Homo sapiens: one gene and its partners. The protein of the gene in region 1 purifies or fractionates together with the protein of each later gene. This does not show direct contact. Each region holds a gene or a part of one and is shown on either strand. Other genes may lie near its edges. The genes, in order: NRSN1, PACC1, PUSL1, NDFIP2, DSC3, HGFAC and ZDHHC9.

What was found.
Region 2: the proteins of NRSN1 (region 1) and PACC1 purify together in Homo sapiens (affinity purification with mass spectrometry; one large-scale study listed by BioGRID and IntAct). This does not show direct contact.
Region 3: the proteins of NRSN1 (region 1) and PUSL1 purify together in Homo sapiens (affinity purification with mass spectrometry; one large-scale study listed by BioGRID and IntAct). This does not show direct contact.
Region 4: the proteins of NRSN1 (region 1) and NDFIP2 purify together in Homo sapiens (affinity purification with mass spectrometry; one large-scale study listed by BioGRID and IntAct). This does not show direct contact.
Region 5: the proteins of NRSN1 (region 1) and DSC3 purify together in Homo sapiens (affinity purification with mass spectrometry; one large-scale study listed by BioGRID and IntAct). This does not show direct contact.
Region 6: the proteins of NRSN1 (region 1) and HGFAC purify together in Homo sapiens (affinity purification with mass spectrometry; one large-scale study listed by BioGRID and IntAct). This does not show direct contact.
Region 7: the proteins of NRSN1 (region 1) and ZDHHC9 purify together in Homo sapiens (affinity purification with mass spectrometry; one large-scale study listed by BioGRID and IntAct). This does not show direct contact.

The regions. Positions count from the first base shown.
Region 1 is NC_000006.12:24,132,715-24,136,214, reverse strand, and holds part of NRSN1 (neurensin-1), read right to left. Parts: intron 1,897-3,500; 5' UTR 1,888-1,896; coding exon 1,699-1,887; intron 1-1,698. UniProt on the Homo sapiens protein: May play an important role in neural organelle transport, and in transduction of nerve signals or in nerve growth. May play a role in neurite extension. May play a role in memory consolidation.
Region 2 is NC_000001.11:212,366,658-212,369,886, forward strand, and holds part of PACC1 (proton-activated chloride channel), read right to left. Parts: intron 1-3,229. UniProt on the Homo sapiens protein: Chloride channel gated by pH that facilitates the entry of chloride ions into cells upon exposure to extracellular acidic pH. Involved in acidosis-induced cell death by mediating chloride influx and subsequent cell swelling.
Region 3 is NC_000001.11:1,307,366-1,311,396, forward strand, and holds the start of PUSL1 (tRNA pseudouridine synthase-like 1), read left to right. Parts: upstream 1-1,231; 5' UTR 1,232-1,278; coding exon 1,279-1,355; intron 1,356-1,549; coding exon 1,550-1,607; intron 1,608-1,720; coding exon 1,721-1,908; intron 1,909-2,088; coding exon 2,089-2,238; intron 2,239-2,315; coding exon 2,316-2,486; intron 2,487-3,268; coding exon 3,269-3,323; intron 3,324-3,422; coding exon of another isoform or gene 3,423-3,435; exon of another isoform or gene 3,436-3,474; coding exon of another isoform or gene 3,475-3,543; coding exon 3,544-3,706; intron 3,707-3,964; coding exon 3,965-4,014; coding exon of another isoform or gene 4,015-4,031. Other genes in the region: ACAP3 (arf-GAP with coiled-coil, ANK repeat and PH domain-containing protein 3), read right to left, coding at 404-450.
Region 4 is NC_000013.11:79,536,655-79,540,154, reverse strand, and holds part of NDFIP2 (NEDD4 family-interacting protein 2), read right to left. Parts: intron 474-3,500; coding exon 380-473; intron 1-379. UniProt on the Homo sapiens protein: Activates HECT domain-containing E3 ubiquitin-protein ligases, including ITCH, NEDD4, NEDD4L, SMURF2, WWP1 and WWP2, and consequently modulates the stability of their targets. As a result, may control many cellular processes.
Region 5 is NC_000018.10:31,008,243-31,011,742, forward strand, and holds part of DSC3 (desmocollin-3 isoform Dsc3a preproprotein), read right to left. Parts: intron 284-3,500; coding exon 27-283; intron 1-26. UniProt on the Homo sapiens protein: A component of desmosome cell-cell junctions which are required for positive regulation of cellular adhesion. Required for cell-cell adhesion in the epidermis, as a result required for the maintenance of the dermal cohesion and the dermal barrier function.
Region 6 is NC_000004.12:3,447,477-3,449,986, reverse strand, and holds the end of HGFAC (hepatocyte growth factor activator serine protease isoform 2 preproprotein), read right to left. Parts: intron 2,496-2,510; coding exon 2,356-2,495; intron 2,093-2,355; coding exon 1,952-2,092; intron 1,860-1,951; coding exon 1,711-1,859; intron 751-1,710; coding exon 568-750; 3' UTR 501-567; downstream 1-500. UniProt on the Homo sapiens protein: Serine protease that hydrolyzes the inactive zymogen hepatocyte growth factor (HGFsc) to an activated disulfide-linked heterodimer, then initiating hepatocyte growth factor receptor signaling pathway.
Region 7 is NC_000023.11:129,816,387-129,819,886, forward strand, and holds part of ZDHHC9 (palmitoyltransferase ZDHHC9), read right to left. Parts: intron 1-3,500. UniProt on the Homo sapiens protein: Palmitoyltransferase that catalyzes the addition of palmitate onto various protein substrates, such as ADRB2, GSDMD, HRAS, NRAS and CGAS. The ZDHHC9-GOLGA7 complex is a palmitoyltransferase specific for HRAS and NRAS.

The DNA of each region.
Region 1 (3,500 bases):
ATACCAAGACAGTGTTAAGCTCTTTGTAAATACTATCTCATTTAATTCTCATATCTTTTATGTGGTTGGTGCTATAAGTATCACCATTAGAGGCCCCATAAGGCCAATTAATTTGCCCAGGGTTACAGAATGATTAAACAAAAGAGCTGGGGTTTGAGCTCATGTAGTCTGAGGTTAGAATCTATGTTTATAATTATTAGGCTATACAGCCTCTTGTTACACTATATGGCCAATAAATTGCAAGTTTATGTCAATATCCATGTCAAAAAATTCTGGGATCTTTTGGGAGAAACAAAGATTAAGGAAGACCTTAGGCATTATCTAAGGTTCATCTTCTCAGTATCCCTGAAGCCTCTTCCCCTTCTTAGTTTCTAAATGTTGGAATGTCCCAATGCCCTCTTCTCTTCTATGTCCACACTCTTCTCCTGGATGATCTCAGAAGTCTAGTGCCTTGTATAGATTCTATGTGTCAATAACTCCCAATTTATGAGCCGTAGATTGATATATTTAAATTGTCACTAGAGATCACTACTCCGATGTCTAATAGGCATAACCTTTACCTAAATCTGACTACTTTTCACCATCTCCACTAACGCCACCAGCATCTTTTGCCTGGGTACTTTAACACCCTCTAAATTTATCAACCTCTTCCAGTAGCTTCCCATGTCTCTCGAAGTAAAAACCCAAGACTTCACTGTGGTGTACAAGGCTCTACATAAATCATCTGTGCCTTGTTATTTTTCTTAATTCATTGCCTGTCCCTTTTCTCACCCCACTCCAACCAGATTGGAGACCTCTGGATCATTTTCAAACACACCAAACTTGTTCCCATTTCAGAGTTTTTGGACTTACTATTTTCCCAGTCTAGGATGACCTTCAGTCAGGTCTGTTCCCTCAACTCATCCTGGTATTCCTTGAGATGGCATCTCTTCTGAAAGCCTTCTACCATCAGCATATCCAAATACCAGTCTCCATCACCCCCTGTCATCCATAGCACTATCACTACCTAACATTCTATCATGTGGTTTCTTTGTTTACAGCCTGTTTCCCATGATAGATTGTAAGCTCCATGAGGGAAGTCACTTTTTCTTTCCCTGTTTACCACTTTAACTTCCAGAACTTTGAACCCTCTTGGCACAGAGTAGATGCTCACTAATTATCTGTTGAGGGACTAAATACATTGTCTAATGAGATTCCTTCATTTGAGGAAGCTGGGGTCAGAAAGCCTCATGATCACACACTCGGTAGAGACGGAGCTGGTATACTGACCACTGTACTACATTTCATCATTAACTCTCTCTAAATACCTAATGATTTCTTTTTAATAATTGTTGCAACTTGTCAGATGATACTTACCACGCCTGTAAGGAAGGCTGAAAGAATATAATGTTTTGCCTATGGATGGCTTCAATTAGTGAATTTAATGGCACATTTTTAATGGTAGCAATAATAATAATTCATATGGCAATTGCACCTATTTATGTTTAATCTGCTCATCAATAGTTGTGCTGTGTTTAGAGGCTTTCTTTGGCCCAAGGTTTAGATTCTTCTTTCCTAAGGTAAGAAAAATGCATTTAGTATCACCAAGAGTGATGCACACACAGCGAGTACTAAACCTCTCCATCCTCCACAGCTGCAGTATTAACCATGTCCAATAATTTTTCCATTCCCTAAGTTAAACACATGCTCCTTCCTTACCTTCCAGAATACTGAGCTCCACCTGTTAGGTGATCTTTGGATCTGGAAATCATCCTCATACTCCCAAATTGAGGCTGTACAGTCCTCATAAAACTGGTGCAGGTAGGACCGGACTCCATAGCGCTGGTAACCACCCTCAGCTGCAGCCTGTGCCTGCCTGGACCCACAGACGTTGCTGCAAGAACTCATCCTTCCCAGCTGGAATGACAACATCCACATGGATTAATGCCACAGGCTTTGGCCACAGGATCAAAAGACATATGAAAGGTAAGAACCAGACTGAGTAATGTATGCCTAGTTGAACAATGCTCTTTTCATTACAGAAAAGGTACTTTTAAAGACCCCTCTCTCTTGGCGGGGCGCAGTGGCTCACGCCTGTAATCCCAGCACTTTGGGAGGCTGAGGAGGGAGGATCACGAGGTGAGGAGATGGAGACCATCCTGGCTAACACGGTGAAACCCTGTCTCTACTAAAAACACACACACACACACACACACACACACACACACACAATTAGCTGGGTGTGGTGGTGGGCACCTGTAGTCCCAGCTACTTGGGAGGCTGAGGCAGGAGAATGGCGTGAACCCGGGAGGTGGGGCTTGCAGTGAGCCAAGATCGCACCACTGCACTCCAGCCTGGGTGACAGAGTGAGACTCCGTCTCAATAAAACAAACAACAACAACAACAAACCTGTCTTTCTTATAAGCTGTTCTTCTTTTTTGCTTAATGCAAGATTACCTAAACACTCAATGACTAGAACTGCATCTCCATAAATGAAATGAGATACAACAGCACAACTCACATAAATTAGGTACACATTTAAGCATGAAGCACACAAGAAATGGCAACAAAGAAGCTGAGATTTTTTATTGCCTTGACAAGAAATCTTTAATCTCTTAGAATCTAGTTGTCTTTGCACTTACATGTTAAAGAATTGGGCAGGCATTCTCATTTGCTGAAGATGGAGTTTGTCTTAGACTGTCCTCTCAGATTTTTAACTATGTTTCCTTGTGGAATCTACACCGCATTACTCTTACTAGTTTGAAATTTTGCCTTCCGATCTCATGTATCTTCCTCTGACATTTTAACTAATTGTCAAGTTGTATGAAGCTTTATTAAAAAGCTGCTGAGCAATTTATGCCTCATGCTTTATTAATCACAAATGGCTTGGCCAATAATTTACACCTCACTAACTCTAACACCATATATTTTACCCATTGTTTGTGGATACATCTGTCCATGTGGGTGGCTAGAGTATAATGTGGAGAGTGGACACAACCTTTTATTATTTTCCATGAAGTGTCTACTGTAAGTAAGAACTCAGAGAACTGTTAAATAAAACTATGTCCTAGGCAGGTTGTTTTGGGTTCTGCCTTTTTAAGATGGAAATTTCTACTTTATTTGACCTAATTGATACCCTTAGAGAGAGGCATTTATATGGATTTTGTTACTAATCATGGTTAAAAAAAAGAAAGAATTACTGAGTGACAGTAATTTTGTTGAATAAGGGAATTGTCAGTTATCGTCTTAATTTCTGATCTCCATATAAGCAAATAAATGTATAGCTGGAAATGTGAAATACGTGTTTGGATTTTTAAATTATCCTGTACACAGATGGTAACACAGTGACACAGGGAGGGGAACATCACACACCTGTCAGGGGGTGGGGAGCAAGGGGATGGAGAGCATTAGGACAAATACCTAATGCATGTGGGCCTTAAAACCTAGGTGATGGGTTGATGGGTGCAACACATCACCATGGCACATGTATACCTATGTAACAAGCCTGTACGTTCTGCACA
Region 2 (3,229 bases), on another chromosome or scaffold:
AGCTGAGTAAAGCATGCCTCGGGTACTGGGCTCCACTTGGCCCATAATAGGTACCTCATACTGAATATAGTAGGTTAAAAAATGTTTTATCACACATTACACAACGAGCTGCAAGCCCTTCTCCCCAGTCTTGATTCAATAAGCCTCTGCACATCCCTCTTCATACAAAGCCTTGCCAGTCCATAATTAATAGTGGTAGTGGGTGATAGCAGAGCAAGCACATCCGTATCACAGAATCCCCACCTGGGGGTGGAAGCTTACACGTTTGGGTCTCAGCTATGAAACAGTTTCCTGTAAGCCATGATCACATCAGGATATATTATGATGACATGAATGCCAATCAATACTAGATTTAGGCCTGGCTCTGGTGGACGGTGTGTCTTAAATGTTCCTTTAGCAAAGCTGTCCAATTATTCCTCCCCTTCCAAGATCATGAGTCAGAATTTGACGTTAGAGGAGGTGGAGCCAGATGGCTAAAGAGAACCCTCCAGCGATAGTCCTCTGCAGCAACACCAAACTCAGCTATCCATGTAAGAAAGTATCTACACAAGAGCCAAAAAACCAGGTGAGAGATCACAGTATCTGGTTTAGTATAATAACAGGAAAAGACACACTGAAGAAGAGTAGAAAGGAGGGTCTCACGCTGCCTACACACCCCTCCCCCAACCTTAGGCAGTGCAGCAGAGAGAATCTGTGAGCTTGGGAGAGGGAAGTGAGTCTGGAACTTGCATTGGAACTTCACAAGGGAAAACAGCACCAGGCAGAATTCTGAGGCCCTGATTCCAGGCTAGAGCCCGTGAAAAGAGTATTAGGCCCACCCCAGATCAGAGGGGCATCTACCACCCCAGTGGGAGGAAACCAAGTCTGGGCCCACTTTACAATAGACTAAAGTGGCCTTAGGCCCCAAATAATTTCAGTGGCAGCCAGGCCATAGCAACCACAGCTCTGATACTGCACTGGTCTGGGAGTCTGTGGGTTTGGGGTGTGATCCAGCATGACACCAGCTGCCTCAACTCCAGGCAGTGCAGCATGGTGGAACACTCCTGCTTGGGCAAAGGAGAGGGAAGAGTATGAGGGACTTTGCCTTGGAACCTAGTACCAGCCCTGCCACAGCACCAGGAAGAATCCCGAATCCCCTAATTATAGGCTATTGCTCCCAAATGGCACTTCTAAACCCACCCTGGCCAAAAGGCAATCGGCCACCCTAGCAGGATGGACCCAAACCCCAGCCAGCTTCACCACTGGCTGACTAAAGTGGCCTTAAGCAAACCCCAGTATTGCATTGGTTTAGGAGGGACCCAGGGTGGTGCCAGCTGTGACAGCCATGGGAGTACCTGCCTTACCCCTCCCCAACTCCAGGCAACTCAGAGCAGAGAGACTCCTTCCCCTTGAGGGAAAGATAAGGGACTTTGCCTGGGAACCCCCAGGGCATTCTCTCTGATCCTCCCCAAGTACATCAGGGCTGGATATCTAGAAGTCTACAAGATAGTCACAGTGTAACTTGGCTTAGACTGCCCTCTAGTGCTGAAACAGCTGCAGTGACTGACTACACGCTTAGGGAACTCATCATCAGTCACCTTTCAATTTGTAGAAAATCTCCTGAAGATAGATGGGTATAAACAAGGGCAGACTGTGAAGACTGAAATAAACACCTAAATCTTCAATGCCCATAGACAGACGTACACAAGCACCAGAAAAGTTCAGAGAAATACAATCTCATCAAACAGACTAAGGTGCCAGTGACCAATCCGGGAGAGAGAGATGTGTGACCACTCAGGGAATTCAAAATAGATGTTCTGAGGAAACTCCAGGAACTTCAATGAAACACAAAGACTCAATTCAGAAATTTATCAAAGAAATTCAACAGAGATTAAAATAATTTTTAAAAATTCAAATAAAAATCCTAGAGCTGAAAAGTACAATTAACAGACTGAAAAATGCATCAGAGTGCCTCACAGAATTGATCAAGCAGAAGAATTAGTGAGCTTAAAGACAAATTATATGAAAATACACAAATAAAAAAAAAAGAATGAAGAACACTCACAAGGTCTAGAAAATAGCCTCAAAAGGGTAAATCAAGAGTCAATGGCCTTGGCCGGGTGCGGTGGCTCATGCCTGTAATCCCAGCACTTTGGGAGGCCGAGGCGGGCGGATCACAAGGTCATGAGATCAAGACCATCCTGGCTAACACGGTGAAACCCTGTCTCTACCAAAAATACAAAAAATTAGCCGGGCGTGGTGGCGGGTGCCTGCAGTCCCAGCTACTCGGGAGGCTGAGGTAGGAGAATGGTGTGAACCCGGGAGCTTGCAGTGAGCTGAGATTGGGCCACTGCACTCCAGCCTGGGTGACAGGGTGAGACTCCGTCTCAAAAAAAAAAAAAAAGAGGCAAAACAAAAATATAAATAGATATAATAAAAAGTCAAAATGTGAGGAGTATGGAGTTGAAGTGTAGTTTTAAAAGTTTTTTGTTTCTTTGTGATCAAAGTTAAGTTGTCCTCAATTTAAAATAACTTGTTTTAACTGCAAGATGTTTTTTATAAGCCTTATGGTAACCATAAAGCAAAAACCTATAATGGATATAATAAAAATAAAAAGTAAGGAATTTAAAGAGATAATCATTTATCCACAAAGACAGTAAGAAGAATGAAGTTACAAAACCAAAAAACAAAAAACGAAATAGCCGTAGTAAGTCCTTCTCTATCAGTAATAATATTGAATGTAAATGGACCAAATTCTTAAGACACAGTTGCTGAATTTATTAAAAAACAAGACCCAACGGTATGCTGCCATACAGCGTATAGTTCACCTGTAAAGATACACAGATTGAAAGTGAAGAGACAGGCCAGGCGTGATGGCTTATGCCTATAATCCCAGCACTTTGGGAGGCCAAGGTGGGCAGATTGCTTGAGATCAGGAGTTTGAGACCAGCCTGGTCAACATGGCAAAACCCTGTCTCTACTAAAAATACAAAAATGAGCCAGGTGTGGTGGCGCATGCCTGTAATCTCAGCTACTTGGGAGCCTGAGGCAGCAGAATCACTTGAACCCGGGAGGTGGAGGTTGCAGTGAGCCAAGATCATGCCACTGCACTCCAGCCTGGGCAAGAGAGCAAGACTCCATCTCAGAAAAAAAAAAAAAAAAAGTGAAGGGATAGAAAAAGACATCCCACACAAATGTAAATAAAAAAACAGGTTTAACTATACCTGTAACAGATAAAATAGACTTCAAG
Region 3 (4,031 bases), on another chromosome or scaffold:
TGTTCCCCACGCGCTGCTCTGGACACAGGATCAAGTCAGAGACCAGGGGCCGACGCCCCCACGGACCCAGACGACCCTGGCCAGAGCTGGACTGCAGGGCCCGGGAGGGGCTCAGCCCAGTGGAGGTGCAGACACAGAGCGGGGGCGGACGGTCCCGAGGTGCCCACGGCTGCCCACGCGCACGCCCTCCACCCGGGGCGGCCGCACAGGGCAGGAGCGTCTTTTGTTCCAACCCCCGGGGCATGGCGGGGCGGGGCCGCCGCTTTGTCCGAGGCCGGTCCTCCAGCCCCTCCCCGGCGGCCGCGGCCCGGCCCGGCGCTGACCTCCCCACCCCGCCGCCGGGCACAAAGGCGACAGCGACGCCCCCGGCCTGCGCCCACCCCGGCGGCCCCGGGCGGCGCACCTGAAGCGCGGGGAGTCCTTGACGCACTCCTCGAACTCCACGGTCATGGCTGCGGCGGCCGCGGCGCTCACTGGCACGAGGACCGCGGCGCCGAGCGGCAGCCGCGCCGGCCCGGACCGCTCGTCCCGCCCGCGCCGCCTCGGCGCCCGCCCGCCCCGGAATGAGGCCGCCGCGCCGCGCCCCGCCCCGCCTGTCACCGCCGGGGAGCGTCGCCAAAGTCAGCCGCCCGCGCGCACCGCCCGCTGTCACTGCCGGGGAGCGTCGCCAAGGTCCGCCGCCCGCGCGCGCCGCCCGCTGTCACCGCCGGGGAGCGTCGCCAAACGCCTCTCGCAGCGTCCAGGGACCACCCCGGTCCGGAAGTGAGGCGGGGCCTGCCACGGCCGTCTCCGGGGACAGTCGGTGGAAATGTGGGGCGCGGGGAGGGCGCGGGGAGGGCGCGGGCCCGCCCGCTCCAACCATCCCGGCCGTTGCGCAACTCAGGGCGTTTGCAAAAACCACGTCTGGGAGGACTTGGCCGCAACGCGGCGAACGGGCGCGCTCGGGGAGTGTGGGCGGCGGCGAATGAATGAGCGAGTGAACGAATGCACGCCCGCGAGAGCGCGGGGTGACCGCGTGGTTGGTGCGCGCCTCCCGGGGCGCCGCGATAGAGGTAGAGCGCCTGCGCTCGGCGGCGGGCCGGCACTTTGCAGCCGCTCCCTAAGCCCGGCCCCGCCTCCGCTCCCCGACTCTGGCCGCCGTGGCGCGGTGCCACCGCGCAGGCGCAAGAGCGGCCGGGGCCGGGGGGGAGGGGGGGGGGGCGTGACCAGGCCGCGTCCGCGCGCGCGCAGGATTCCTGCGCTGGAGGCCGCCTCTGACGCCACCGGCTGGGCTCCGCCATGAGTTCGGCGCCGGCCTCAGGCTCCGTGCGCGCGCGCTATCTTGTGTACTTCCAGTACGTGGGCACCGACTTTAAGTAGGTTTCCCAGGCGCAGCGGCGGGCGCCACGTGGGCCCGGGCGGAGGCGGGAAGGAGGGCGCGGGCGGGCAGGCGGATGTCTCTGGACGCGGGTTCCAAACGTTCGGGGAAGGAAGCGGCCCTGGCCTCAGACGGCGGCGGAGACCCCAGGGCAGGGCGCCCCCGGTAACCTCCGCCCGCTTCTGCCCGCAGCGGGGTCGCGGCCGTCAGGGGCACTCAGCGCGCCGTCGGGGTCCAGAACTACCTGGAGGTGCGCTCAGCCGGTCACGGGACGCCCGGTGAGGGGTAAGGGGGAGGCTCCCGCCCGCGCGTCCCCGGGGTCCGGCCTCGCTCACCCGCCCGCCCCGCGGCTCGGTCCTGCAGGAGGCCGCCGAGCGGCTGAATTCCGTGGAGCCGGTCAGGTTCACCATCTCCAGCCGCACGGACGCCGGGGTCCACGCCCTGAGCAACGCGGCGCACCTGGACGTCCAGCGCCGCTCAGGCCGGCCGCCCTTCCCGCCCGAGGTCCTGGCCGAGGCCCTCAACACACACCTGCGGCACCCGGCCATCAGGTGAGCCCGCGACCTAAGCAGCCCTGGGGCTGTGCCTTCCCGACTCCATCTGTCGCGGGCGGAGGCTGGAGATCTGGACAGACTTCCTTGTCTGGTCGGAGCTCGAGGGGGAAGGAGAGCCAATGTGACACCGCGGGCGGGCGGGGTCGTTCCTCCGGTGAGCTTTACCTGCCGCCATAGGGTCCTGCGGGCCTTCCGAGTGCCCAGCGACTTCCACGCTCGTCACGCAGCCACGTCCCGGACCTACCTGTACCGCCTGGCCACTGGCTGTCACCGGCGTGATGAGCTGCCGGTGTTTGAACGCAACCTATGCTGGACTCTCCCGGCAGAGTGAGTGTGGCCCTGACAGCGGGGAGGGGGCGGGCAGGCCGGCCCCACCCTCCTGACGGTCACCCTGGTCCCTGAAGCTGCCTGGATATGGTCGCCATGCAGGAAGCCGCCCAGCACCTCCTCGGCACACACGACTTCAGCGCCTTCCAGTCCGCTGGCAGCCCGGTGCCGAGCCCCGTGCGAACGCTGCGCCGGGTCTCCGTTTCCCCAGGCCAAGCCAGCCCCTTGGTCACCCCCGAGGAGAGCAGGTGAGGAAGGGCCCCTGGGCTGTGGCCCTGCCCTCAAGTCACGTGCTGATTTTAGCTCCAGCACCTCCCCCAGTTTTAAGGCAAGGTGAGGCGGGAGGCAGGCAGCCGGGAGTCCTCAGGACCTGGACAGCTGGAGGGGATTCGCCCGGACGCCCCCCAGCCTCCAGCTGTGCCCTCCCCCCAGGCTGGGGAGCGGAGAACAGGGAAGGCTGCTTGTCTCTGAAAAACCCCTGCCATGCCTGATGGAAGAATGTTGGCAGCTACTGGAAAGGTCTCACTGGTGCCAGTGGTTCTGGTGGGGTGGTTTCTGCTGCCCCCAGCACTGTCCCGAGGGCCACCCACCAGGTGGCAGCTTCTGACCAGAACCTCCCCTATTGGGGTGAGCCCTGAAGGGGGGAAGAACTTCTGCCAGCCCCAGACTTCTGTGGCAGAGCAGCAGGTACAGGACTGGGGGTCTCTGGCACCCGCACCAGCCACGTTCCCAGACCCTGCACCAGGACCCTAGGTGAGGGCCCAGGGCAAGCCCCTCTGGGATGGCCAGGCTACCTGCCCAGCCTCCAGGGTCCTGCTGCCTCCTTGCCCAAGCATTGTTTCTCTGGTTTTAAGCCCCTCCAATGGGCCTCACTGGGGGCAGGAGATCAGCCAGGGCCCCTGGTGGCCAAGCTAGTGGGAACCAGGCTCGTCTTTAGGCCCACCCTGTCACTCTCCCGTCCAAGGCCACATAGTAGGCTGAGGATGGCAAACACTGCCCCACAGACACCTACAGGTACGTATTTTTCCAGGAAGCTGCGGTTCTGGAACCTGGAGTTTGAGAGCCAGTCTTTCCTGTATAGACAGGTAGGCTCTGTTCTGGGGCCGTCCCCAGGGGGTGGGGCTGAGGGTGGGCAGGCCCCTGTGCAGTCTTGGCTCTGGGTCGTGGGCGGCTCTGGGTCACAGGTACGGAGGATGACGGCTGTGCTGGTGGGTCACGGGCGGCTCTGGGTCACAGGTACGGAGGATGACGGCTGTGCTGGTGGGTCACGGGCGGCTCTGGGTCACAGGTGGCTCTGGGTCACAGGTACGGAGGATGACGGCTGTGCTGGTGGCCGTGGGGCTGGGGGCTTTGGCACCTGCCCAGGTGAAGACGATTCTGGAGAGCCAAGATCCCCTGGGCAAGCACCAGACACGTGTAGCCCCAGCCCACGGCTTATTCCTCAAGTCAGTGCTGTACGGGAACCTCGGTAAGAAAAACAGGCACGAGAAGCTCCTGTCATGTGCCCAGTGACTACTGTGGCCGAGGCATGGGGTGGGGGGCCAGGGGCCACTGACGGCAGCAACTGGGGGTGAAGCAGCCCCCCGCCCAGGGCTGCAGTCCCTCAGGCCAGCCCGTAGCCCGTCCTGGGCTGGCCCACTCCCTGGTCATGGGAGTGGTCTCAGCGGTGGGGAGGGTGCTGGGCCGGTCTTGCCCCAGGCTGACGCAGGGTCTGGTCCGTCCACAGGTGCTGCCTCCTGCACCCTGCAGGGGCCACAGTTCGGGAGCCACGGATGACCCTGGACACTCAAGCC
Region 4 (3,500 bases), on another chromosome or scaffold:
CTCAAATGGAAATCCTCTGCCCCAATAGTGCAATTTATAGTTTCATTCTATACGCTCCTACAGAGCTGAATGGGCACCAATATAGCAGTATTTCTCTTTAAAAATCTGAAATAGCTTAAATATGCTTATGTACTTTTACATGTCAGCATCTTCATAATGGCTGCAACGCATAAATTTATCCAACAAGAGTTTGATAAATTCTAGGATTTGTATTTAAACATATGATCACAGTATTCATTAGTCCAATATCAGGAACAATTTACATTTTAAGAAAGGTAGACATATGCTAACAATATTTGCTTCTCTTCACTATGTTACTTTAATACACATACAGCCAATTCATAAAAACAACCCAAAATAGTTTAGGAAGATTACTTACTGAAAAATGCCAGCATGAAAATGCCATCATTCCCCACTCTGAGCTGGTCTGCATCACTGAAGTCATCTCTTGGTGGACACTCTTCCTCCTGAATCTGTAAATATGTAACATTGGAATAGCTCACTAAAAATTACAACTTTATCATCTTAAATGTAAGCATAAGAACTTCAGCAACATCTAATGTTCTCAATTTGTTGTATAGACAAATGCAATAATGAGTACAATGTCTGGCACAGAGTAATCAATAAGCATTAGCAACTAATATTTTTTCACAGTCACATTTGAAAAGAGTAACTTTAAAGATAAACACAAAAAAGATAAAAGATGAATAACATCAAACTCATAAAAATGGTATCAAGAAGATACATGTGACAGTGCTCCATTAGTAATGACTGGGAAATAAGAACTTTCATAACCAGTGGTGGAGTATAAATTGGTACAACTTATATTGTTGGCAATTTTGCAATAATTATCAAAAATAAAAATGTGCATACCCTATGATCCAGCAATTCCAGTTCTTAAAATACACTGCACATATATATATATGTATACACACACACACATATTCCCTCTTATAAAAATGATGTATTAAAGATAATTCATTCCAGCAATGTTAATAAGAGCAAAAGATTAGATACAATCTAAATGCCCATCAACAGCAGACTATGTTAGGAGACAATTCTCCCCAAGTCTATCATGTTTCTACATGTCTTCCAGGTAGAGGCATTGGTGGCCTTTTTTCTGGAAAAGCTGCCGGCATTCGATGCCAGTCCCTCAAGCAGCCACAGAGCTGTACACTGCAAAGCCTCAGGGGCAGAGCTACCCAAGGCCTGGGAAGCCCACCCCTTGTACCAGTAAGCCCTGGATGTGAGACGTGGAGTCAAAGATTATTCTGGCCAGGCGCTGTGGCTCACGCCTATAATCTCACACTTTGGAAGGCCAAGACAGGTGGATCACTTCAGGCCAGGAGTTCAAGACCTGCCTGGCCAGCATGGTGAAACCCTGCCTCTACTAAAAATACAAAAATTAGCCAGGTATGGTGGCACATGCCTGTAATCCCAGCTACTCAGGAGGCTGAGGCATGAGAATCGCTTGAACTCGGGAGGTAGCAGCTGCAGTGAGCCGAGATCACACCGCTGCACTCCAGTCTGGGCGACAGTGAGACCGTCTCAAAAAAATATTATCTTGGAACTTTAGGATTTAATGACTGTCAGGCTTGGTTTCGGTCTTCCATGGGGCTTGTATCCCCTTTTGTTGGCCAATTTCTCCCTTTTGGAACCAGCATATTTACCCAATGCCTATAGTGCCATTTTATCTTAGAAGTAATTAGCTTGTTTTTGATTTTACAGGCCCGTGGGTGGAAGGGACTTGCCTTGTCTCAGATGAGGCTTTGGATTGTTGACTCTTTGAGTTAATGCTGGAATAAGATTCTGGGGGACTCTTGGGAAGGCATGGTTGTATTTTGAAATGTGAGAAGGACATGAGATCTGGGAGAGGCCAGGGACAGAATTATATGGTTCGATCTGTGTCCCCATCCAAATCTCATATTCAACTGTAATCCTCAACTGTTGGAGATTGGGCCTGGTAGGAGGTGATCGGATCATGGGGGTGGTTTCTAATGGTTTCACATCATTTTCCTGGGCGCTGTTCTCATGAGAGTGAGTGAGTGCATTATTGTTTTTTCTGAGATCTGGTTGTTTAAAAGTGTGTGGCATCACCCCTTCACTCTCTCTCTTCCTCCTGCTCCAGCCATGTAAAATGGGCCTGCTTCCCCCTCACCTTCCGCCACAATCGTAAGTTTCCTGGGGCCTCCCCAGAAGCTGCTATGCTTCCTATACAGTCTGCAGAACTGTAAGTCAATTAAACCTCTTTTCTTTATAAATTCCCCAGTCTTGGGTATTTCTTTATAGCAGTGTGAAAATGGACTAATACGGTACACATCATCTCAGTTGAGTGTGAATAACTCAATTTTGTGAGGCCAAGTCTGAGAAGCTAGGGCTCTGCTCAATATCACATAATTAGGAGGGTCAAAGTGGAACTTGAATCCAGGACACTGATGTTGTTTCCACACAATCATGGTAGTCTCACTAAGCATACTGCTATCCTGAAATAAAAAAACTTTCAAAACCATTTTATATTGCTTATTATTCGGGCACAAAGATCCCTTAAATTGTGCAATCATATATCATAGGTAAACTCAATATACTAAATTTAATGACTGGCCATGACTAAGTGCATATTTATAAAATTTTAAATAATTTCAAATTAATTCAAGAAATAAACATTAAAGCACAGTAAGAACAAAAAATTGTCAGTGTGATGGCAAAAATATATTTCATACTGTGTATTTTAAAACATCAGTCCAGGCCAGGTACAGTGGCTCATGCCTGTAATCCCAGCACTTTGGGAGGCCGAGGTGGGTGGATCACTTGAAGTCAGGAGTTCAAGACTAGCCTGACCAACATGGCGAAACCCATCTCTACTAAAAATACAAAAACAAATTAACCAGATGTGGTGGCGTGCTCCTGTAGTCCCAGCTACTCAAGAGGCTAAGGCAGGAGAATCATTTGAACTGGGGAGGCGGAGGTTGCACTGAACTGAGATTGCACTACTGCATTCCAGCCTAGGAGACAGAGTGAGACTGCGCCTCAAAAACAAAACAACCACCACCAAAAAATCAATACAGAAATTTTATCAAAAGTCATCATTTAGGAAAAAAAAAAAAATTAAGACAAGATCTCACTCTCACCCAGGCTGGAGTGCAGTGGCACAATCATGGCTCACTGCAGTCTTCATCCGGGATCACTACAGCCTCAATCTCCTGGGCTCAAGTGATCTTCCCACTTCAGCCTTCCAAGTTGCTGGAACTACAGGTGCATGCCACCACACCTAGCTGATTTTTTTTTTTCTTTTTAGTGGAAATAAGGTCTCGCTGTGTTGCCCAGGCTGGTCTCAAACTCCTGAGCTCAAGCAACCTGCTTGCCTCAGCCTCCCAAAGTGCTGAGATTACAGGAGTGAGTCACTGCAATATGCCCAAAGATGTCTTTTATAATATTAATAGAAAAAATCGAAACACAAACATTTGAAAATAATTGTTCACTCTAGAGGAATGGCCACTAAG
Region 5 (3,500 bases), on another chromosome or scaffold:
GTATGTGGTTATAGATTTATTTTTACCTTAAACCATTGCCATTTCTATTTTCGGGGTCATATGCCTTATAGCCGTTGATCTTTGACCCCACTGCTAAGTTTTCTTTAATCCGCACATATTGGGCTGCAGGAGTGCATTCAGGCCCCTCATCCAGATCCCTCACATGAACTGTAACCAAGGCTCTGTTCAAGGCTGTCACTCTGGGAATATCTCTAGCAAATGGCGCTTCATTGTTTACTCCAATTTCCAGGTTCACTTGACGGTTTTCTTCATAATTCAGTGGCTTTAAAATAAAGTCCATGTATATCAGTGTCAGTGTAAAATACATCTGGCATTTCAAATGGCAAGTGAACATTTGTCATCCTGACCAGTGCTGCATAAATTCTATGTTCACATGTTGTTAATACTGACTTTTATCCCTTGCTAAACAGAGAGTGGATCCCGTGCTAAGCCTCTACCAAGAATGGTCCAACAACTTCTGCAGGTAGTTTCATAGAGTTGGACAAACGAAATTCCGGAAATATTTTCATATTTCACTCTTACTAAGGAAAATTACTCTGATTCAAAAAGTAATGCAAACAGATGACAGTATTCTTATGGTCCTGCTTGGAGCACTGTCTAACAGGCTGGGCTAACGGTCATCTGAGTATGGGAAGTTGCCTTTATTTGGCTTATCAGTTACTACTGACTATGGCCCAGGCATTTTATAACTCTTGTAAAGTTTGATGTTGACTTTCACAAAACCAAAAGGTGCAATGATTTCATTTTCTGTCTCATAGAAAAGATATCTCCAGTATTTTATTTTCTTTTATTTTATTTTTGAGACAGAGTCTTGCCTCATTCTGTCACCCAGGCTGGAGAGCAGTGGCGCAATCTTGGCTTACTGCAACCTCTGCCTCTTTGGTTCAAGCGATTCTCCTGCCTCAGCCTCCCATGTAGCTGGGACTACAGGCACGTGCCACCATAATCAGCTAATTTTTGTATTTTTTTCTTTAGTAAAGATGGGGTTCTGCCATCTTAGGCTGGTCTCGAACTCCTGAACTCAGGTGATCCACCTCCCTTGGCATCCCTAAATGCTGGGATTACAGGCGTGAACCACCATGCCCGGCCCCAAATGTGTGTTTTAATTGCCCTCTAAGGCATCTAACTGAGCCATCTAATTGCTGCTTTTCTTTTATCAAAATCCATCCAGAGTCTCATTTCTTCTTAGGAATCAACTTGTCTTTTTGCTGGTTCCTTCATGAATGAGTTAAAACCTTTATCCATCCATGCCCACTACCTGTTTTTATGAAAATTACATTTTTGAAAACTTGAGAATTATACTTTGGCATTGTCTATAATTTATCCAATGAAACATTCACAGTGGATACACAGAGGAGTAAGGGAAATACTATGTGATTGATTTTAATTATCATTGAATCTAAGGCACTACTCTAACAGTGAAAATAAACTCACTAAATCCTCATGACATTATGAAGTAAGTATTATTGACCTCATCCTCATTTTACAGAGCAGAAAACGGGAAAAGGAGATAAACTGATTTTTTTTTAAGACCAAAAGATAATCATTTGAGCTTGAATTTGAAGCCAGGTAGTCTGACCTGAGTCCATTTCCTTAGCCTACGCTATAATCCCTCTGCTATCGTGTGCTGCTTAATTGGCTCACTGATCTCTAAAAAATTTCCAAATCAATCTTTGACTAAAATTCAGTTTTAGATAACAAATCAAGTAAAACCCATAAAACATTATGTTACACTGTACTATAAAGTTGAAGCACTTTTTCTTCAATTTCTCTTTCTGCTTATCAAAACAATCACTGGCTAAACATTGAACAAAATCAAAACTGGTGAATAAAATTATTTTAAATCTTTCTCCACACCTAGGTATTAACAGAGTAAGACATTAGTATCACGAGTCCACTAAAAAGTCAAGAAAGTTTCTGAATCTTAGAATCTACAAAACATATGTAAAACCTTTTTTTATTTTGTATGTATATCCCACAAACTGGAGAGTCAAGGAAAAAAATATTAATATCTGTTCGTTTGATGCTGATGAATACTGTTTCACACATTTCATGTGCTGGTGTGATCACACAGAGAGTAAGAGCAACTGCTGGCAATGAGAAATGGATGGAAATTTAGAGAACAGCTGCTGCACTGGAGGAGGTGCAACTATTCAATCCAGAAACACTCGCTGAAGCCTTGGAGTTTCTTTGTCCCATTTTTCGAGGCTTAAGATGGATATTGTTTTAGTAGCTTAAAACTCTCCAAAATTAAAAATCTGGTGAGATGAAATCCTAAAGATTAATGGGATTAGTTAATCTCATTAATTAATAGGAAAGCCTGTAAATTCTCTTCCACCTCAGGGTACGTTTTTGTTTCGCCACTTAAAAAAAGTGCTTAAAAATATCCCACATCTGCACTGAGATGTTAACAACTCCCTAGAAAATGTATAGTTGTGGAAATGGAGCTGAGGACTCTCCATGTTGAGAAGGACCAAGAATAATACTATCCTCACTCAAGCCCATATGCGTCACTGCTGCTGCTCCAATGGACAGAAGCCACTGAGGTGGAATGAGTTTACCCAGAACACAGCAAAAGCCTGTATCACTCATGCTTTGTGGTTACAGAAAAGTTATCTATTTTGGAACATTATAACACTAGTCTCAAGGACATAGCATAACTTTTTAAAATAAAATAATAATATCCCACAGTTTACCAAGTGCTGTTACGTTCAATATTATATTTGAAGAGCTATTAGGGAGGCAGAAAGAAGTATTGTTCCCATTTTACAGATAACACAGAGGCCAACTTTCCAAGATCACACAGCTGTGGAAAACAATTTAACATAGTGCTTGACAGCGTATAGTTAGAGTCAAAGAGCTAGGTTCAAATTCTGTCTACACTACATCCTAGCTGTGTGGCATTGGGAAAGTTATTTAGTCTCTTTAACTCTTCTCTTCTGTGAAATTGTTGTAAGAATGACATTTAACACTACAGCATAAAATAAGGCTTTACACTAAATTCTGAGTAATCTCTCAAGCTGTCACAGAGGCGAATGAAGGGAATAAATGCTGTATGTTTTTGTTAACAGCCAATATATTGCAATAAAAGGAGACGCTAACTAGTAAGACAATGTTTGCAAGCTTTATTCAGCTAAAAGTATACCAGAGCAATTCTTGGTTTGGCCTACTGATTACTTAACTCTTTGAGGTATAAAGGAATGAATAACATGCACTCTTTCCCTGGATATAATTCTGACTAGCAAGGAAGAACCAGGGCATTGGAAGAGGAGGATTCCTTTAGAGTTAACAACATAGTGATGTCATTCTTTAATCAGTACTCAAAAGGTTAGTCATCATTAGGTACATAGCCTACATGACAGAAACATGGATTTTGAACACCATGATTATACAGTGTTTGATTTTCAAATAAAAGATGACTCACTGAGATTAAAAAGTACTTAAAGATGCCAGGCACGGTGGCTCACGTCTGTAATCCT
Region 6 (2,510 bases), on another chromosome or scaffold:
CATGGGCCCCTCCCTCCCTCAGCCCCCACAGAGGCAGCCTGTGGCCTCCTCCCTCCCGGGAAGTGCAGCCCAGGCTCAGGCAGGCGGGCTGCCATCTGGAAGACCAACGACGGCCTGCGGGTGTTCCCGTGGGGCCGCTCTTTCTTCTTCAGGTTCAATACTCCGTGCACCACGCGGATCGGACCCCTCCACGCCTGGGGGCCTGGACTTGGTTTCCACTTCCTGCCCTGGGACAACCCAGGTGCTGAGCCCCGGCCTGGGGCTGGCCTGGGAGGGGGCTGGACTCTGCTGGGGCCTGGAGAGGCCCAGACCTCATCCCCTGACAACTCTCTGGGCCGTGGGGCCAGACCCCGCTGTGGGGCCACAGGCTCCGTCTCCACTGAGGACTGTGTGCGCTCCAGAACGGCAGCCTGAGGCCTGCTGCGCATAGACCTGGGCCCCAGTCATGGCCTGGAGGGGAAGGCGGGGCCGCAGGCAGGGGCCAGGCAGCGTGGGCCGGGTTCTTGGAAATATCTTTATTGTCAGCAAGGCAGGGAATGGTGGGAACCAGGGTGTCCCGCTGGAGGGTCAGGAGGGAGCCACAAGCCGCCTGGGAGGCCGTATCCGGTCGTTGATCCAGTCCACATAGTTGGCCACGCGGGTGTAGACCCCCGGCTTGTGGAGCCGCCCGCAGCCGTCACCCCAGCTGATGATGCCGTAGAGGTAAGCCACGCCGTTCTTCTCGCAGGCCAGGGGCCCCCCTGAGTCCCCCTGGGCAGAGACGTTGGTCAGAGCCACCCTCCCAGGGGCCTGGTTCAGGGACCCCCCTCTCCCCCAAGTGGCAGCTTGGGGACAGAGGACAAAGGCATTTCTGAGCAAGGGAGCTGATCCACTCTCCTGAACCTCATGAAAAGGTGTCTCATTCCCTGGGGGCAGCACTGGCTGGGCCAGGGCATCCAACCACGTTATTCCCCTTCCTGAAGCCACGGTCCCCCTCTCCCCACCAGCATGAACCCTGTGTGGACCACACAGCCACCCTGTGTCCCAGCACCTCCTGAAATGACTTCTTCACTCCCTGGAAAACTCCTACGCATCACTCAGGACCAGTGCAAACACTCCCTCCTCCAGGAAACCATCCTGACTTCCCTTATCGAGGTCCAGTGACAAGCCCTACCCACTCTACCACTCCTGGGCTTTGTGGCCTTGGAAGAGTGAATTGACTGCCTGGGGCTCAGTCTCCCCAGCTATAAAATGGGGCATAAGAGAGCCGTCGCATGCCAGGGTTGCCGTGCCGCCTGAGCACACAGGCCTGCAGAGCCCAGGACGTGGTTGGGCTGTTGGGCTTATTGAAGGTTGAAGAACTTATTGAAGGTTGAAGAGCTGGCTTGAGAGAACTCGGGGCAAAGGGGCCTTTGGTGCCTAGTGTCACACGGAAAGCACTGCCTTGGGCTGGACAGCCAGGAACTGTCCGGGCTCTGTGGGACCCCAGGCCCCTCTCAGAGCCTGGGTCTCCCCTTCTGTGTGAGGAGGATGCCCTTCCGGCAGGGCTCTGGGTGGCCCTGGGGTGCTGGCCACCGACAGTAAGTGTGCTCCCTGCCCAGGGGTCCCTGGCTGGCCCTGCCAGGTTGGGGTGCCGCCAGGCTCTGGGCTCCCCAGGGGCAAGCATCTCGGAGACTCAGGACCAGCTGAGCCCCCACCAGTCGGGTCCTGGTGGGGCGGGCACCAGCTCACCTGGCAGGCGTCGGACTTGCAGTCGAAGTAGCCGGCACAGAGCATGTTGGGGCTGATGTCGGCGCCGTAGACCTCAGGGCTGCTGCACTTGTGGTCGGCGACCAGGGGGACCAGGGCCTCCCGCAGGGAGCTGGAGTAGCCGCTCACGTCTGTGGGACACAATGCCCTCAGCGTGACACCCACACTGTGGCTGGCCACTGTCCACCCTGGCGGGGCGCTGGGCGCCCCCCTCCCAACTCACTCTCATCCAAGTGGCCCCAGCCCGCAATCTGGCACTTGTGTCCTGCGGGGAAGGTGCTGCCGGGCTCGGGCAGGCAGATGGGCTGCACGAACTGCGAGCGTGTGGCACAGCGGTCCCCTTTCTTCTTCAGCCGGATCAGGACTGATCAGAAGAGTGGCCAGGGTCAGCCTGTGGTGTGCGGGCTGAACGGGAGGCTGTCGGGGCCCGTGGTGGAGGGAGGGTAGCCAGTGGGGTCCACAGGGCAGCCTGGGAGATCCAGAAGGGAGCGGTGCCCTGTCCTCCCTGCCCTGCCCCCAGCTTCCCCCGCACCACATGTCTGCCCAGCTCCTGCCCCTGTCTGGGCCTGGCCTGGGGAGCACAGGGCCCACCTGCCCAGAGTGCAGCCACGACACGCCGGAGCTCACCGAGGTCGTGGTCGCTGGGGTTGAACACCGAGTACAGGGTGTACGGGATGTACTTCTCGATGCCGAAGGTCTGCGTCACGTCCGTCGTGCGGTTGAAGAAGTGCTGGCCCAGCACCACGGAGACGCTGTCCCTGGGGGGGCTGTGCAAGGGGGGC
Region 7 (3,500 bases), on another chromosome or scaffold:
CCGCATTTGGTTGCAGATGAGGAACACACTGATACTGTATTTATTGGAAAAAAAAAACCCTCATTATTAAGTGGGCCCATGCAGTACAAAACTGCATTGTTCAAGAGTCGACTGCACATAAAACAAAAACAAAAAACAAACAAAAAGGAAATAGGGCAAAAACTAATAAATACCATAAAACCTATATTTAATATTTTTCCTAGTCACCAATAATTCATTGTAATACTAGTAAAATAATAGCATATTTTATGCCTATCAAAATAAGAATATAAATAATAAAATCCAGTGCTAGTGAGAATAGGGTAAAATGGACACTCTAACATACTGCTTGTGGGAGCATAAAATGAAAGAACCTTCCCAGAAAGCAATTTGGCAGTACGTATCAAGAGCCTTCATAAAGCTTGTACCCCTTTGGTAGAATAAGTCCATTTTCAGCAATTTCTCATAAGAAAATAGAAATGTACACAGAAATTTTAAGTTCAAATTTTTATTTTTATTTATTTATTTATTTTTGAGACACAGTTTCACACTTGTCACCCAGGCTGGAGTGCAATGGTGCGATCTCGGCTCACTGCAACCTCCACCTCCCAGGTTCAAGCCTCATCAGCTGCCCGAGTAGCTGGGATTACAGGCATCCGCCACCACGCCCAGCTAATTTTTGTATTTTTAGCAGAGACGGGGTTTTGCCATGTTAGCCAGGCTGGTCTCGAACTCCTGACCTCAGGTGAAATGCCCGCCTCAGCCTCCCAAAGTACTGGGATTACAGGCATGAGCCACTGCGCCCGGCCGAAGTTCAAACTTTTAAATTAAATTTTGTATTGTTTGGAAGGCCCAGGCAGGGGAATCATGAGGTCAGGAGTTTGAGACCAGCCTGGCCAACATGGTGAAACCCCATCTCTACCAAAAAATGCAAAAATCCGTGGGTCGTGGTGGTGCACACCTGTAATCCCAGCCAATCACGAGGCTGAGGTGGGGGGATCACTTGAGCTCGGGAGGCGGAGGTTGCAGTGAGCTGAGATCACGCCACTGCACTCCAGCCTGGGTGACAGAGTGAGACCCTGTCTTAAAAAAAAAATCTATTATGGTAAAATATACATAACATACAATTTGCCATTTTAACCATTTTAAGTGTGCAATTCAGTGGCATTAATTACATTCATAATGTGGAACCATCACCATTATCTATTTCCAAAACCCTTTCATTACTCCAAACAGAAACTCTGCACCCATTAAGCAGTAACTCTCCATTTCCCCCTTCCCCATCCCCTAGCAATCTCTAATCTTCTGTCTCTATGAATTTGCCCATTCTAGATATCTCATATAAGCGGAATCACACAATATTTGTCTTTTTGTGTCTTTTTTTTTTTCACATAGCATGTTTTCAAGGTTCATCCACATTGTATCAGTACTGTATTCCTTTTTATGACTGGATAATATTCCACCGTATGTACATACCACATTTTGTTTAACCATTCATCTGTTGATAGACACTTGGGTTGGTTACACCTTTTGGCTACTGTGAATAATGATGCTACGAACACTGGCGTACAAGTAGGTTTTGAGTCCTTGTTGTCAATTCTTTTGGCTATTGTTATGGAATGAACTGTACCCCCACTCCCCAGTTCCATATGTTGAAGCCCTAACCCCCAATGTAGCTGCACTTGGAGGCAGAACCTTTAAGGAGGTAGCTAAAGTTAAATGAGGTCATCTGGATGGGGCCCTAATCCGATGGGACTGGTGTCCTTGTAAGGAGAGGATGAGACACCAGTAGTGTGTGAGCACAGAGAAAAGGTCACGTGAGGACACAGCAAGAAGGCAGCCATCTGCAAGCCAGGGGGAGAGGCCTCACCAGAAACCATCCCTTCTCGCACCTCTATCTTGGACTTCCAGCCTCCAGAATTGTGAGAGAAAAATTCCCATTGTTTGAGCCAGCCAGTCTGAGGTATTTTGTTATGGTAACCCAAGCAGACTAATATAGGTATACACCCAGGAGTGGAATTGCTGGGTCATGTGGTAATTCTATGTTTAACTTTTTGAGGAACCACCAAACTTTTCCACAGCAGCTGCATGATTTTACATTCTCACCAGAAATGTATGAAGGTTCCAATTGTTCCACATCCTTAAGTTTAATAATTATGATTGCAGTGTTACAACAATGAATAAAATAGAAGAATGAATAATGTCTAATGACAGAAGACTGCCTGAATAAACTTGAATAGAACCATATGATGGATTATGCAGTCATTAAAATAATATATTAAAGAAACATTTATTAAAGATGTAGAAAAACGCTCAGGATAGAATGTTAAATGACAAAAGCAGGATTAAAAACTATCATGTTACAGTCCAATTTTGCAGAAACACTAGTAGGAAATATAGCAAAATGGAGAGTGAATTTAGGATTAAGTTTTATTTATACTTTCTGCACTTCCCATATTTTCCACAATGAACATGTGTTATTTTGATGAATAAAAGACTACAAAAGAATAAAATACATCAATTTGGGCCAGGCGTGGTGGCTCACACCAGTAATCCCAGCACTTTGGGAGGCCGAGGCAGGTGGATCACAAGGTCAGGAGATAGAGACCATCCTGGCTAACACGGTGAAATCCCGTCTCTACTAAAAATACAAAAAAATTAGCCAGGCGTGGTGGCGGGAGCCTGTAGTCCCAGCTACTCGGGAGGCTGAGGCAGAAGAATGGCGTGAACCCAGGAGGCGGAGCTTGCAGTGAGCTGAGATCGCGCCACTGCACTCCAGACTGGGAGAGAGAGACAGCCTCCGTCTCAAAAAAAAAAAAAAAAAAAAAAAAAGAATAAAATATATCAATTTGAAAGAAAAGTGAGCTGTGTACTGGTGAAAAAATAAGGCTGTAAAAATGGTCTATCTCCTGCTGAGGAAGCTACATCTTTTCAGGAAAGGGAAGAAAGGTATAGAGAAGAATGGTTATACAGATATATATTTTTTACAGTATTTTAAATCACATTTTTTCTGATAATACAAGTAATACATGCTCATTGTAGAAAACTTGAAAAAAATAAAAGGAAAAATGAAGAAATCACAGTAGTGGAGGATGGCATATGAAAAAATGAAGGAAACAAAATCACTCATAATCCCACAACCTATAGATAATAAACTATAAAAATTGTGGCATATTTCCTGTATTTCCTTGCATATTTCTTTATACATCATTAGATTTTTTAAAAATAGGTAACTGACTTCACACTGTAAATGTAGCCTATCTCCCATTTTGTCATTTAGCTTTCTGGTATGAACTCTTTCCATCAGTCTAATGTACGAATGTCCTATTATTTATTTATTTATTTATTTAGAGACAGAGTCTTACTCTGTCGCCCAGGCTGGAGTGCAGTGGCACAATCTCGGTTCAATGCAGCCTCCACCTCATGGGTTTTTTATTCTCATGCCTCAGCCAGGGTCTCAGCTGGGATTACAGGCACATGTCACCACGTCCAGCTAATTTTTGTATGTTTTAGTAGAGACG